Regions from separate parts of the Homo sapiens genome. Here region 2 is linked to region 1. Evidence: fine-mapped expression QTL. Tissue or cell type: whole blood. Region 1 holds a variant in brackets; the other region holds the start of a gene. All regions are shown on one strand. Distances are between the middles of the regions.

Region 1 (8,102 bases):
GAGGCATAGGCCTTTGGAGCGAGAGCACAGCCAGGCAGCCAGACACGAGGTTTCCATAATTGCTTCTCTGAGGGATCAGGGGCTGTCATGATGTCATTTGCTCAGAGGGCTTGCTACAGATGGGCTGAACATGGACCCTATTAAGTCACCTTGTTCAGTGGGAGGCCTATCATTCAGGATCCAGTCAGAAATACAAAAGCCAGTCTAAGTATGCAAAAAATGTAATTCAGGGAATTGGGTAGGGAATCACTGAGAAGCCAAATAGGGAATGTAATTCAGAGATTAACAGAGATTGTTCCCACTGCTGGCTCCAGGCTGGAGCGCAACTGAGAGGGGGTGTTACTGGAGTCACAGTGGGGAATGTCCAGCCCAGGGCTAGAATACCATGGAGGCCCCCTATGGTAGCTGGGACCTAGAGGGAGAGGAGCCACAGAGGAGAGGCAGCTGCCGCCAGCAGCTGATGAGGTGATTCCACTTGACAGGCTGACAGAGGAATGAATACGTTGGCTTCTCTCCTTCTTTGGCCCCCCAAACCCCATTGGCTGAAGCCAGCCAGAGGAAAGCTGACTGGCAAGCCTGAGAAATGCAGCCTCCAGGGGTCAACTTCCCCGCAGTACAGAGCAGGGGATGAAAGAGAGAATCACGGTCCTGACGACAAACAGCCAAATGGCCAGTACAGAGACCATGGCCATGTCAGTGCCCCTCAGCCTCGCCTGGGGCCCTGGGGTGGCCACCAAGTAGGGAGAGCAGGAAGGAGAGGCCACACCACAGAGGACTCCACCCTGCAGGGACTCCTGAGGGGCAAACATAGGTCCCCACCATCATTGTCACCCCAACCTATGTGACCTTCAGCATCTGTAAGGATGGAGGGAGGAGGGCAAGTACCACAGATGAAGCACAGAGAAGACCCAGGTACAGCCTGGCTGGACCCACACACAACTCACCCAGATGCCCTGCTTTGAACACCAGCTCCCGAGATAGGCAGAGGGCAGGGCAGAGACACCTGTCCTCAGGAAGCCAACAGGCCCAAATCCCACTGCCTTCCACTTACAGAATCCAGAAACTTCCTTCCTCCCCCAAGCCACTTTTCCCTCACCTATACAATGGGGATACTATGAGTACCTATCTCACCTCTGTGAAGATGAAAAACACAACATGAGTGTGCCAGGTGCAGGGCTGGGCCCATTTCACATGCCAGTCGGCTGGAACCTCCCACTGGCAGGCAGAGCCCTGCCTGTGGCAGAAGCCGTCTTGGACATGTCTGTAGGTGAGCAGCCACCTACACACAGTAGGTCCTCAGTCAGGGCTCTCTTGACAGGAGAGAGAGTTGAGAGGAAGAATTTGGGTGGGGTGAAAGCAGACCACTAGGGTCAAAGCTCTGAGAAGAACCTCAGTCAAACCACAATACAGCTCCTGACAAAAAGGGGAAAATATATTTTAAATAAATAAGTGCCCTGAGTGAGAAGAGGAAGGGTCAGCGGTCTTGCTCAGTGAATGGAACCACGGTATCCAGGGGACCCTGAGCCCGGAAGCCCATGGCAAATTCCAGCAGGGCCACGCAGGGCCCCACACCCCATCCCTCTGCTACCTGCCAACAGGGTTTCCTGTTTCCAGATGGGCCTCGTCTCCTTGGTGTGACACGACCACCCAGCCCTTCCCACTCAGAAATACACGCACAAGGTCCAGAGCTCCCAAACTTGGAGAGCTGCCCCGGGAGTATTAGAAGCAGGCAGGCTGGAAGCTTGACGTTAGAGGCTTCCAGATCCAGCGCTGGGCCTCATTACTGGGAAACACATGGTCGTCCCCTGTGGACACTCTTGGAGGCCAAGGCAGGAAGCTAATCCTCGGGGGTCTCTGTCTTTCAGTTTTACGTTCCTCTTCCCCTGGGCCTACAGGGTCTGTGGTTGCAGTGCAGAATTCAAGCCAAAACATCAGAAAGCCTCATGTGGTCTGACTTCTCCTTCCCCTCTCCATTCCCCAACACACACACACACACACGCACGCATACACACACACACACACACCCCTGCATACACATATCCATCCATACATACACACATGCATACACACATACCTGCATGCACACACACACATGTATATACACATGCATACATACACACACACACCTGCCTCTGGGCTCTGTCAAGCACCCCAGGTAAAGTGTTGGTTAGAAAACCACATGATAATTATGAGCTGTGAGTTTTGCTCCACAGTTATAGAAAGGGAAAATACTTCCACTTGAGATTCTCAGCCCGCTTTACACACCGGAGTGAATATTTTGGCTTAGCTCAGAGGAAAACAGAAGCAGAGAAGCGACCCCACTAGAGGAATGGTAGGGGAGCATGCTGGGAAGGTCAGAGTGTTCTGGATAAAGGGATGCATGCCGTAAGAGCTGGCCACAAGTTCCTGAGAAGGCTGGAACAGCTAAGTCTGATGAAGAAAGCACTGGATTGAAAGGAAGACGTTCAGCATGGCTGAGCGATTCTGAGAAAGTCACCAGGAGCTCTGCACACTTCATTTTGCCCATCTCTACAGACAGAATTGTGCTGACAAATGTTTAGCAGCTCTCTGAGTGGCAGAGGCGCTCTGATTGTAGTGTTTGCTGATGTCCGTGATGTAAATTGTCTTACCACAGTCAACTTCAAGGTATCAAAATGACATCACTGAATGTGGAATTGGAAAGAGACACACAGTAAGCCCACCATCATGTGGCATTCCCACCACACAGATACAATCAGTGTAAATAGCCCCAAGGCCATAGATATAGTAAGGTATAGTAAAATAATTAGGAAGCAGTGAGTTTTGATTTATTTATTCACTTTGTATTTAATATCATTTTGCCATAAGTTCATATAATTGTTAATAACTTAGTTACATTAAAAATTTAACAGTTTAATGAGTCATTAAATATAATTTAATCATTTAACAATCAGCTTTTATCAAACACTGTGAGACAGTTCCAGCGCACCACTGCATGGAAAAAGTTCCAGACCCTTGTGCTCAAGTGCTGGCTGGAAAAACAAGTTAATGTCTTGGAAATAAACTTGGTACCTAAGCAGAAGCCCTGGAAAGGCCAGAGTTACCATTCTAAGAAACACGTACAATATTTTGTTATTTAAAAGTGAATTCATTTATATTTATCATACTAGATATTTAAAATAACTTTGAGGATGTTAAACCATTCCATGGTATAGATGAGGAAACAGGATCAGAGAGGGAAAGGGAGGCCAAGCCCACTCAGCTGGCATTTGATTTACTCTAAACCCCTCTCTTGTCTCCACCCCTCCCTTCGTGGCCTTGGTGAGGGGCAGCCCACACCAGCACACAAGCTCTGACTGCACTCCACTGTCAAAGCTCACCTTACAGGCATCGCCAGACACGGTTCACAACTGGAGTGCCTGTGCCAGGCCTGGACTTGGCCCTCTGGCTTTAAGGGAATATTAAGTAAGAGGTCACACTCACTTCTTTCCTAGGACTTCTGTCACAGAGCTCGGGGACAGTGACATTCAGAGGGTGCCTTCCTTCCAAGATTGGAGGAAAACACAGCTCTCTGAGATCCACCCATTTCTCTG[C/T]CCTCTGGGACACAGGATGTTGGTGTCTCTGCTAAACTGATCAGAAGGCAGCAGAAGGGCTTTAAACTCAATTCTCTGAGCTGTAGCCAAACCCCAAGGCCTCCTGGACACCGAGAGCTGGACAGTGCCTGGCTGACCACCCAGGCTGCATGCAGCGTTACCCAGCAGCCCCTTGGAGATCCCCAGACAGGCCACCACCCCGCCCCGCAACATGGAGCAGCCAGCACTGGATTCCAGGACCTCTGCTTGGGGCTCAGATCCCAGACCCCCAAACTCACATGTGGCTGGAAACCAGCCCCCACAAAGTCCTCCCGTGCAAAATGAGACCTTCTCCCACCTCCCACCTTCCCCCAGCTTGGCTACTTCCCCTCCAGCTTCTGGGTAGGAGATACTCCATTGCCCAGGCCACACCCCCTCAATCCTTTGTCATTTCAAATTTTCTGGCATGTAGGTTTGGTATGCTTGGCTCTTTTAAACATCACGCTTTATGGCCCTTTGCAGTGTAATTTCGTTCCTGTCCTGCCATTCAATTTGAATTAAATATCAAACAGATGTGAGTCATTTTTTTTGCTCTTTTTAAAGAAAAAGTTTAATATTAGAGAGCATGCCCTCCTATAAGATCAGGAAAGCCATTTGGAGAAATAAGCCCCTTCAAATTAAAAAAGAATCACATTGATTAACGTTAAGATGCTTTCAAGTGATACATTTCGAAGTGCTAAGGGAAGGTGTTTCCAGCAAGCTATAAAGCAGCCCGTAGAAAGAAGGGGAAGATATACGGCCCAAGGCTGATGGGGAAATTGGAGCTCTGAGAAGGGGCAACCCCACCTGGGAGGAAGCTCTGAGCTTGGAGATGAGGTTCACAGATGATGTTGGGGGAGGCCATCTTCCCTGAAGGCCTTAAGCGGGCCCCTGTGCTCTGCAGCCTGTGTGGTCAGGCCGGGAAGGGAAGCGTGAAGGAGCTCCATTTTGCTCAGAGAGCTGGCCTGGCCTGAGTGCCCATTCCTCTTCCTCACATGCGTGTGCTAGCTTGGCCTGTCTCCCTCAGCCAGCTGTCCCCAGTGATTTTGTATGTCTGGACATGCTGAATGGCTTAATCCACTCATTCCTGCTGCAGTCTCTCGGGTAGTGCAGTCTTTGGCTTTTTGTGGGTCTTGGACACCTCAGAAAATGATAGCTATGGCTTCTCTTTGCACATAGGAACACACGCAACTTGCATTCAACCTCAGGAGCCTATGGTTTCCTGGTGTAGATTCTCCCTCTTCCCCCAGCCCAAGACAGCCAGAGCGTAGAGCATTCCATTACCAGGACACTCAGTGCACAGGGCCAAGGCCTTCCTCTCACAGAGAACGGGAACCTATGTTTACTGAGCACCACGTGCCTAGCACTGTGTAGGGGCTTTTGCATGAGCCAGAGGAGCTGGTCGGTCTCCAAACTGCTCTCCCTTCTTGGCAACATGCATACCTGGAACTCAGTGTTATTGGACCTGCTGCCGTTCATGGCTACAAGCCAGGGCTGCTCCTAGCGCCGCCTCAGGCTAAAGTATTTCCATGTGGTCCTTTGACTCACTGCACCTAAAGGCAGCTCTCCAACGACAGCCGGCTCACTACAAATGGCATTTCCACGTGGCAGGGCAAGGAGCCAGAAGGCATCTGATTCCAGCTGGTCTTGAACATCCTGGACCCTGGGACAAGGCTCTGCATACCCAAGGTTTGCCTCTGGGATGACGTGCAAGTGCCCAGAGACCATGGGGAGCATCAGGCCCCACTGATGAGAAACAGAACCAACACTTCCTAGAATTCCTCAGACAAAAGAGAAGTTGAGTTGAGGGATTTAGAGCAAAGAAAAGCCTAGACTTCGGTCTCAGACAGCCAAAGTCTGGATCCCAGCTCTACCACTTACTGGCTCTGTGACCTTAGGCAAGAGCTCAACCTCTCCCAGCCTCAGTTTCTTCTTTCTGTGAAACAGGAGTATCACAGGTCTTACAGGGTGTCTGGGAGGATAAAATGGGGGTGCCTGTGAAGGACTCTGCACCGTGCTTGACCGACATTAAGGCCTCAATGTTTGGAAATTATCTTTTTGCCCCCTTCCCTCCAAGGTGACAAGCCTCCTATCTGATGGTGCTTGCTGGGGCCTGGGGGACTGGGAAGTGAGTCACAGCAGGCTCAGTCCCTGAAGGAACCATACCGATGGCCACAAGAGGAGCCGCAAATGCAAAAGGAGTGTGCGTTACTGTCTCATAATTCCTGTTTCAGGGGAGGGAAGAGGGGGGAGGGGAGAGGGGAAGAAAGCAGCAGAAATATCTGCAAGTGGTTTTAGAAGAGGAATTGAAATTCACAAGCCACTGCTGCCATTCCAACCGTTATTTTCATCCACGGCAATTCAGTCGCAATGTACCGAGATTCATCCTGAGAGCCTTGGGTGTGGGGGCTGTGGCGGGTGCAGCACAGAAATGGTGAGGCCCAGCTTCTGCCCTCCAGGGACCCAGGACCACATCCAGATTCCAGAAGGACTCTGAGCTCAACCTGACAAAGGCTGGTCTGGGCAGAAGGGGTTTCTGAGCGGGGCAGGGACGAAGTCATACCTTGAAGGATGGGCCGTCTGCTGAGAGAGAGGGACAGCCCCTGGCTATGCCTTGCTGCCCACTGGGCAGGGGCCCAGGGACAAGGTAGCCAGCTCTCTGAGTTCTCCATTTAGCCCCCTCCACCTCCCAGCTCACATAGCCCCACACGACAGACATTTATTTGTGTTTCACTAAGAACAAGAGGTCCTTTCTAAAGGGGCTGCTCGCTGCCCAGCCTGGAAACTCGTAACAGCAATGAAAACACATTTCTCTTACTCTGCAGCTAACAGGGTCAGCAGAGTGTCACTCAGAGTCCTGAGGATGTGGGTGAGGCTCCACTCCCAGCCCCTCCTCAGGAGCCCAGGTCTCTCTCCAGGTGACAGGGGCAGGGGGAGACATGAGGCCCTAGGCTGTTAAAAGGGGCTTACTATGACGGTGGCTTAGCCCCATAGCCTCCAAGATCCCCAGGATGCCCAGTCTGAGTCCAGAACCTCGTGTGGTGGCCACATGCATTCTGTTGACTGTTTCCGTGTTCCCTACGGGGCAAAAGCTCAGCCACAGGCTTTTCTCCAGCGTTTGGGACCACATACATTCTGTCCTGGACTGATGACATGGAGTCTTCTCCTAGTAGGAACTTGATAACTTAGACACATTCATATCTGTCTCTGCTCTTATTTAATTTTCGTGTTTTAATATGCATTTAACTACGTGGATAACTGAAATGTATTTAAATAAACATTTACTTACATGCCCCTCCAATCTTCCTCAGGGTACACACTTTCTCACAGTTGTAATCAGGCTACACAGACTCATTTTCCTCAGTTATTTCTTGGAATTTCATATGGCTCCATCCTTGTCATATTGAGCTTATTGGTTACACATTATTATGTCACAATACACCTTAGTCTATAACTAACCAATGAGCATTTTAACTGGTTAAAATGTTTTTGCAATGGTTAATGTAATACTTCAAAGTATTCATCAAATACTTTTTCTTTGGAACAATTCCCTTGAGAATGTTCCCAGGGGCTGCATGCTTTGTGGATCCTCTATGTGCCTGATGTTTTGCAGACTATCTCATTAATCCATGTGCTGATCCAGCAGACTTTGTTCCTATGATGCCCATTTTACAGATGGGAAAACCAAGGTGGGTAGGGTTGGAGTGGACATTTGCCCAGAGCCAGCCAGTGTGTCTCCATGAGCCATTTCTTGGAATGCCCCTCCCTCCAGGTATACTCTAAGTGTAACGGGAGCCCCGAGTGCCTTTACCCATGGCAGTGAATAACAATGGTGGGATGCTTCAGTGGCAGTGAAAAGCTGGTATGGGATGAAGAAAGCTGCTTCTTCAGCCTCTGAAACCACTGCTACAGATGGCCATCTTGAGCCAAGCCCAGGGCTGCCCTCCCCGACCCCTCCAGAGACCCTTTAAGTAAAGGAGGAGGTGGTTTTTGGATCTCTAAGCCCCTCTGAAGATGTGAAAATGGGGGCAGGTCAGCCACATGAAGCGCCAGCTACAATGTGTAAACACACCTCAGGGCGATGCTAATCTCCAGGTCAGGCCCTGGTGCCACCAGCAGCCCACTGCAGACACAGAGGCTGGGGTGGTTCTGGCCAAGGGCGCTGTGTGATCTCGTGTCCATGGCAGAATGTCACCGGGTTCCCAGGGCCAGGCAGCAGACCACTGGTTGGCACCTCTGTCTGCCCTGCAACGGTGTGAGTGCCCTGTCCAGCCTTCCCTAGATGCAAAGCTGCCACAGTTGCCAAGCCAGAGAGGGGCCCATGGGCTCATGCAGGCATCTCAGCCCCTGGTTGTGCCCCTGGGTGAGGTGCACGGGGCTAATCAGAAACACCTGTGTACATGGAATTTCCTGCCCCAGTTCAGCCTTCATTTCCTCTGCCAGTAAAAACCCAAGACGTGCAAAGGTGAAAGAAACCAGCCAGTCAATCACCCAGACGACGGCCACCAGGGC
Region 2 (8,102 bases), 410 kb after region 1:
AATGCACTAACAGTGAGGAAACACGCCCCTCAGACTAAGCAGTGAGTGCTGCTCACAGAATAGTCCCCATTGGGGGATGGCCCAAAGAGTCACTTTGGTCCCTCTGGGAAGTGAGAAGGCAAGTGAGAAGGCTGTGAGTCTTAACCTCCTCTAGAGGCCCACAGACAGACCATTCATTTCTAAGTCTCTACCCAGAGACGCACTGTGCTTCCCACCTTGGCCTGACATGTGGCAGGGTTAGAACACACCTCCTATCCCCTGCCAGCCCGCGTTCATGCCAAGTAGCACATATATGCCTAAACTCAGCACTTCCATAGTGCAGTGAATACATGTGTGTGTACAGCATCTCCGCATGGATGTACAGGATGTGTGTGTGTGTGCGTGCCCCCATGCTGTCTGCATTCAGGCTGTTCTTTTTGGTAAGACAGCTAAAAAAAGAATGGTCTGTGAAGGGACACTCCCTAGCACGCTGCAACACCTGAATATCTCCTTGAAAGGAGGGATCTTCTACTGCAGGAGACTCGTGGTAAAGGTGGCCAAGAAACATGGCAACGGTGGGGCTGAGGGCAAATGCTGGGCAACTGTGCTTCCCCATGTTCCCCTCCCCGTAGCCAAGACTCATTTCATGGAGGGAGATCTCAGCTTGGAAGAAGGCAGGAGTCACTGAGCCTCCCCAATCCAAACCCCTGAGAAGTGTCCTCCCTCTGGCCTCAGACCCTGCATCCTGTGGTCACAGACCCACAGTGAGAAAGGACCAGGCCCTAAGGAGCTGTGCTGTCTCTCCACGGCCCAGAGCGGGGGATGGGGATGGGGATGGGGATGGGGATGGGGATGGGGATGGGGGTAGGGGTGGGGGTGCTTTGGACTAACGTGGAGGGAATGGAAGGCAGGCCTGGTTCCACCCTGCATGCCCGACCCTGGCCCCAGCAGCCCCCACAAGGAGCTCAGCTGACCCTGGGTGTCTCCCTGTGATGGGAAGGGGTAAGACGAGGACTCAAAGGCAGAACCTGCAGAGTGCCCCAGACGCTGATACCTGCACAGTCAGTGCCACCCACCCAGGAGTTGAGGAGGCACTGGGTTTTGGGGTGAGGACACTGGACACCTCCCTGCTTCTTTCCCAGGCAGACAATCCTGGCGCAGCTCCCTTGGGTTGCTGTGTCTGGTGGAGCTGATCACAGGTGAGGGGCAGAGGGCAGTCTGGGGTCCGCCTATGGCCAGAGGAGCAGGTCAGGGCGGCGCCTTGCCGCCCCAGCTGTGGCCTGTTTGCTCAAGACGCTGAGGTCTCGGGGCCAGCTAACAATTGTTGAGCAAAATCCTTCGACAAACTTCACCTACGTGCAAGGACTCGAGGAGGGAATCACTCTTAGGAGTGGGAGAGTAATGTCTTTGCCTGTGCCCAGTGAAGGCCCATTGGAGCTGCAGCTCAGCTACCACTGTGTGGGAGAGAAGCTGGAAGACTGAGGGCTTCCTGGGCTGCTGGCCCAGGGTTGGGAGACAGCAGTCACCTGGCTTACCAGGCCTATGCCTGAAGCCCTGGGAAGCCAGGACGCAGGCCCCAGGCTGGGACAAAGCTACCCTGAAGGAGGGCAAAGGCTGCCAAGGCCAACCCCATGCCTGCCAAGGCCAGGCCTGGCCCATTTGGCCAAGGCCTAAGGTGTAAAACAAGGGGAGAGGTACAAGAGGCTGTGGGGTCTGGCTGGGATCCTTGGGGTCTTCCTTCTGCATTCTCCAAACGCCTAGAGCCAGCAGAAACGTTTCGTCTGATTAGAAGCCATCATTTCTATCCCAATCCCGGAAAATTGACTGCGGTGCAGAGAGGGAGGCCTGAGAAGCAGCCGTAGGGGAGAAGGTCCAAGCTAATTAGGAGGCAGCATCCGGGGGCCCATTAGAGCGCAGGCTGCTGTCACTCAGCCGGGCTGAGTTCCCGGGAGAAGAGGCTGGAGAAGGAGGGGCAGGCGGCCCCTCGACGAGGACACCGCTGGGAGCTGCCGGAACGGGCCCCGGGCTCTGCCCCCGCCCCGGCGCTGGCTCGAAGGCGCCCGCTCGGTGCGATCCTGTTCGGCAAACATTCACTCATCCTGGGCTGTTCTCGCCAGGGCTGGGGACTTCGAGGCGGCCGAGACGGGAGTTGATTCTAGGCGAAACAAGTCATTTGAGGCCTGAGGTGTGCACGAGCCGCCCGGGACTCGCAGGCCAGATGCGTTTCTTTTGTGAGGCCGAGGGAGAACTCGGTGTGTCACCGGGGAAGGAGGGAGAGGCGCGGCGAGGCCGCGGGGGGCGGGGAGGCGGCGGGAAGGTGGCTGCGGAGGGGGAGGGCGCGGGCGAGGCAGGGAGGGAGGGAGGGCGGCAGTGAGGGCGCGGCGGCGCGGGCGGCTTGGGGCTGGATTCCGCCCGCGCTCCCTCGCTCGCTCGCTCCCTCCCCAGCCCCCTCCCACCCAGGCCCACCCCACCCAGCACCCCTGGCGCAGGGACTGCTGGAACCTGGCTGTGCGCGCTGTCGCTTTAAGACAGACTCTGCCGGCGCCGTCCGGAGCCTTAGAAACCGGCCCCGGATCGCGAGCCGGAGCCGGAGCCGGAGCCGGGGCCGGCCGGGCTGCTGAGGCCCGAGCGGCAGGAGCGCAGCGCGGAGCGCTGAGCCAGGCGCCCAGTCGCGAGAAGCTGCCGCCGCCTCTGCCCGCCCGGCGCCGCAGCCCCGGGCGGTCCATGGGGCGGGCACGGCGTCGCTGCAGGCGCCGGCAGCCCTGGAGGGCAGCCGCTTAGGCGCTGCGCTCTTGTCCCCGCAGGTCGCAGCCAGGGCGGCGGGGCGCGCCCAGCCCCGGCCCCTGGAGCGCCCGCCGCGGTCCCCACCTCCATGGACGCCTTCAAGGGGGGCATGAGCCTGGAGCGGCTGCCGGAGGGGCTCCGGCCGCCGCCGCCGCCACCCCATGACATGGGGCCCGCCTTCCACCTGGCCCGGCCCGCCGACCCCCGCGAGCCGCTCGAGAACTCCGCCAGCGAGTCGTCTGACACGGAGCTGCCAGGTAAGCGCCGTTCCCCGCGCGGCGCGCACAGAGCCTACCCGGGCGCGGAGCACGGGGAGCTGGGAGCAGGGCCTGACGCCCGCGCCGCGCAACCAAGCTCCCTCTCCGCCCCAGAAGCGTCAGGAGCTTTCTTTTTCCCGTTCTCGACCTGACGGTGAACGCGGAAACTTACGCACACGCGAAGGCACTTCCACGCGGTCCCCACGCGCCAAGAGACTGGCAGATGCACGAGCCTACAGCTGGAGGGTTGGACTGACAGCCCCTCTTGATCAGGAGTAAATAGAACGGGAAAGAATTTGATTTGCGCAACTGGGCGCTAAGGAGCGGCTCGGACGAAGGGAGAGGAGGAGACCGAGAAAGGAAGAGGGGTGACGGGCGAGAGAACGCACTCAGAGAGACAGAGAGGGAGGTTAACACCGTGACAGTAGGCGACAGAATGAAAGAGACCAAAGAGAAGGGGCGGGCGGGAAGGGTAAACGGGGGGAGAGGGGTCATCAAGTAGAAGGGAGACACAGAGGACGGTGAGGGCGAGCGGGCCAACAGGCGCGGCCGGACTCCCAGCAAGGCCAGCCGGAACGCCGATCAAGGGATCCGGCCCACGTGCGCGGCCGAAGCCCGGAGCAGCCCGGCTCTGGCCCCCGCCCCGGCTCCTGCGCGTCTCCCTCCGCGCTGCCTTTTTTTGTCCGAGCTGGAGCTTTTTTCCAGCAGCGAACTGGGCCCGCGGGTGGCCGGCGCGGGCAGTGGGGCAGCGAATCCGCTGCCCAGCGCAGCCGGCCGGGTTCCGGAGGGGCTCCGAGCTCCCCGGTGTGGGCGCCTCTTCTGCGTTCATTTCTTAATACACAGCTGAATGTTTCTCTCCACTTTCTTAGTATCTGTTTCTCTTTTGCATCCCTAAGTGATTTTTCTGAGAGGTTGTTTGCTTGGTTAAAACATAATCAACGCTGAACTCTACTTTTGTTTTCAAAAGTTTTAAGCGCGGTCTTTGGTTGGTTTTATTTTTAAAACCTAGAGAGATATATAATCGTATATTGATTTTTTTGAACCAAATCTATGAGGATGAATTAATTTTAACTGTATCTTTCGATTCTGAAAGAATTAACGTACGAAGTGTAGGTCTGGAATTTAAAATATCTACATGCAACATTATTCTTCCGGAGATTTTAAAAAGTCAATCCAAAATGGCGCGTTTCTCCGGAATTTTCTCAAAATCCATTTACAGTGGTGTTATTTGGGGAATTTAAATTATCTAACTATAATGTGTTTCTCTGGGATTTAAAAATTATCTCTACAAGGGCCTTATTGGGAAGGAGTTAAAAATCTATCTACAACGGTACATTATTTTTTTAAATCCCAGAGAAATAAATGCTTCTGTCAACCTGGAGTTTATACACTTACAGCTCTGTATTTAGTTAGGGGTGTGTTTGTACGGAGCTTTCTGGCTTCTTAATTTACATTTGCTCTGTGTTTCTTCCTGTCTGATTTTGAGAATTTGTGGCCCTTTCAGTGTCTTTAGGCATAGAGCTGTGAGCTTTTCTGGGCTTCTGTGTTTTGTTTTTAAACTCTTTTTCTTTATGTATTAATGTTTCTATGACTGCGTGTGTTTTGTGTAGCTTCAAAGAGAGACAGACTAAAGCCCGAGGTCACCTAGACAGAGTCTGTCTGTCTGGGCTGCAGTTGGTGGGGTTTTCTAGGCTTTGGGACTGGAGGCCTGGAAGCAAGGCCGAGAACCCGGCTGTGTTGTGCCTGCCCAGTGGGGCTCCCATACACCCCTGAGGAGAAGAAAGTGGAGGGACTTTAGGCTGGAGAGATCTGATCCTAGTTCAGAAAAGCAGAGACCCCCTCAGATTTAGACCCCCTAAGAGTTCGCAAAACAAACAAACAAAAAGCATACATTTGCTGGGAACATCAGCAGCAGGGTCAGAATCTGAGCCGAGCTAAGGGTGCAGGCCCTGCCCAGCCAGGAACGCAGGCCCGCGGCTCCAGCTCCGATTCTTGGGCTCTTCTCCGCGGCACACCAGACTAGAGGTGCCTACTGACGACCAGCACCCGGCGGGCGCTTTCCAGTGGGGACAGTTCCCAGGAACCCTAGAGGGAGGGAGGGAGGGAAGACCGCCAGCGCTGGTGGCGAGCGGTTCGGTGGAGCCGGGACGGGGTGCAACGGGGCGTAAGCCCAGGTGACCCGCTCCCCGTCCTGCCTACTGCAGAGAAGGAGCGCGGCGGGGAACCCAAGGGGCCCGAGGACAGTGGTGCGGGAGGCACGGGCTGCGGCGGCGCAGACGACCCAGCCAAGAAGAAGAAGCAGCGGCGGCAACGTACGCACTTCACAAGCCAGCAGTTGCAAGAGCTAGAGGCCACGTTCCAGAGGAACCGCTACCCCGACATGAGCATGAGGGAGGAGATCGCCGTGTGGACCAACCTCACCGAGCCGCGCGTGCGGGTGAGCAAGGGGTGCGCGCCTAAGGGCACCCGCGCAGAGGGCTCCCGGGCCGCCTCTGCTGCAGCCCTCCAAAGCTTAGACCCACAAGCAGAACTTCACTCTCCCACCATTCAGACCTGCTCCCTCCCTCCACCGGAGATCCCCACCTTAGGCCCTGGCCCACTAGCGTCTGCCAGGCCTCCAGGCGCCTCGGACCTTCAACCCCTTTGACCCTCATCCTACCTGATCCTCGGACTAAGGCAACCCCAGCCCAAAGACCTGTGCCCCCAGGGGACTCCCCCATGCCCTATGGGGCCCAGGACCCACTCAGATGTTAGCAGGATACCCTGGGCCAGAGACTGGGCAGTGGATTCCCTGCCGCTGGGGACCTCGGGAGCTGTTGGCCTTATCCCGAAAACGAAAGGGAAAGGCAGGTCCTGTCTGGCTGCCTCGGAGAAGCCTGAAAGGTGCCTGGGTTTGGGGCTCTCAAAACTTCCTGGAGCAGTGGTCCCATCTCATAAGCAGATTCTCTAAAAGCTCAAGATATTCTCCACCCTCCCCAGCCATCAGTAGGACCCTTTGCCTTCTGCCCTTTCCGGAAGGTCTCCCGTCAGGTGAGGTGGGGGGTGGCTCCGGGAGCCAAATGTCCTTCCCAGTCCCTTTTAGGATATGCCATCTCAGACCCAAGACCAGCCTGCATTCTCCCTCTTCTCACCCGTTTGGTTTCCAGTAAAAGCAAGGCTTTCCTGCCAGGGTAGCAAGAGAATCATTTCTTCCCTGGGGGCGTAAATATTTAATCAGATATTGGGAGCACCTCCCAAGTCGACCAAAATCCCAGCTGGCCCACAGACTCCTTACCATAACCCCAGCCCTCACCCCTCCCTAGGCAGGCTGGCCAGCCCAGTGGGACTTGGAATGAAGACACAGCACTCAGTAATCCTGAACTCACTAATCCTGCCCAGGTTTATGGTGGTAGGGGTGGGTGGGGGTGGAATCAGGTAGTGTCAGTGCTGGGGACTAGGGAAAGCTGAGAAGCAGGGATCTGGCAAACTAGCTCAGGAAACTCCACTCAGAACTGGAGGAAAATCCGAGTGGGCAGAGGGCATGCGGTAGGCAGATAGGTAAGGATGGGGGAGGACTAGGAGGTTCTTACCAAATTTGGGGGGAGAAAAGGAAGGGCAGGAAGATTAGAAGAATCTAGTAAGAATAGAAAAAATTTAAATATTTGTGGAGAAACATATTTGGCATATATTTAGGCGGCAGGAAAGAAATTAAATAGGAAGCAAAAAGATCAGGTATTTGAGAAAAAGAATCAACTGTTTAAGGGGAACAGTGCAGGTCAGATATTTGGAAAGGATTCAAAAGCCTAATATTTGAGGACGATTCAAAAGGATCAAAAATGGGGGATAAACAAGAAAACAGACTGAGGGAGAAGAAAGAGGTTCAGACAGTGGGGTGGACTGAACGAAAATAAACATTTGGAGCCAAAAAGAAAACATCAAATATTGCCGATAAAGATGATAACAAACTATTTGAGCGATGAAATAGATCGAAGAATTGGGGGAGTCGGAAAGTCCTATGTCTCAGGGAGGAAAAATACCTTTTGTATTTGAGGGAGAATAAAAAGACTGAAATATTTAGTAGATAGAGCGAACCTGTTTGGGGGAGAAGGCAGAGGTGAACTGGTTGAGAGAGGAAGAAAGAAAACGAATATCTGTTAAACGAGAATCCGTATTCGGAGAAGAAAACGGATATAATTTCGGGAGAGGATAAAGATCGGAAAAAGAAATTAGTATTTTCTGGGGACAGGAAAGGAACCATTGTGGAGGGAATGCAGGAGCGGAAATATCGGTCGAAGGAGAGAAACGACGTTCGGAGGGCAGCGGGCCGACGGAAGGCTCCAGGCGGTGGGGAAGGGGGTGGGGTCCCTCCCGGCCCGCAGCGGCCCTGACCCTTCTCCCGTCCCCTCCCCCAGGTCTGGTTCAAGAACCGGCGAGCCAAGTGGCGTAAGCGCGAGCGTAACCAGCAGCTGGACCTGTGCAAGGGTGGCTACGTGCCGCAGTTCAGCGGCCTAGTGCAGCCCTACGAGGACGTGTACGCCGCCGGCTACTCCTACAACAACTGGGCCGCCAAGAGCCTGGCGCCAGCGCCGCTCTCCACCAAGAGCTTCACCTTCTTCAACTCCATGAGCCCGCTGTCGTCGCAGTCCATGTTCTCAGCACCCAGCTCCATCTCCTCCATGACCATGCCGTCCAGCATGGGCCCAGGCGCCGTGCCTGGCATGCCCAACTCGGGCCTCAACAACATCAACAACCTCACCGGCTCCTCGCTCAACTCGGCCATGTCGCCGGGCGCTTGCCCGTACGGCACTCCCGCCTCGCCCTACAGCGTCTACCGGGACACGTGCAACTCGAGCCTAGCCAGCCTGCGGCTCAAGTCCAAACAGCACTCGTCGTTTGGCTACGGCGGCCTGCAGGGCCCGGCCTCGGGCCTCAACGCGTGCCAGTACAACAGCTGACCGCCCCGCCGCACCACGCGGGCCGGCGGCCGGAGCGGGGAAGGGCGCGGGCGCGGGCGCGGAGGACGCACGCGGGGCCCCGGCTCGCAAGCCCCAGCTCACCGCGCCGCGGACCTCACACCTGCGCAGCCCCCTCCTCCCACTTCCC

Alleles and levels. Alleles are on the strand shown, and positions count from the first base shown. SD is a standard deviation of normalised expression in the study named.
With allele T in place of C in region 1, the expression in whole blood of the gene that starts at base 3,459 in region 2 is higher (small effect, 0.27 SD a copy in GTEx).

The links. PIP is the estimated chance that this variant, and not a neighbour inherited with it, causes the effect.
Region 2: PITX1-AS1 starts here. The variant in region 1 is fine-mapped to the expression of PITX1-AS1 in whole blood (GTEx, PIP above 0.99).

Annotation. Positions count from the first base shown.
Region 1 is chr5:135,435,322-135,443,423 of GRCh38, reverse strand. No RefSeq gene overlaps it. Among named protein-coding and RNA genes, the nearest start is that of DCANP1, 8.0 kb to the left of the region's middle. RefSeq lists enhancers at 5,986-6,145, 6,970-8,102. The variant C/T (reference allele first, on the strand shown) is at 3,573.
Region 2 is chr5:135,028,631-135,036,732 of GRCh38, reverse strand. It overlaps PITX1-AS1 (PITX1 antisense RNA 1), which reads right to left and starts at 3,459. Exons shown (of 6, transcript NR_161235.1): 1 at 3,193-3,459. PITX1 (paired like homeodomain 1) reads left to right here and starts at 2,505. Exons shown (of 3, transcript NM_002653.5): 1 at 2,505-3,020; 2 at 5,225-5,457; 3 at 7,412-8,102. The coding sequence starts at 2,852. The coding sequence ends at 7,954. RefSeq lists enhancers at 2,989-3,621, 6,946-7,630 and a silencer at 4,792-4,999.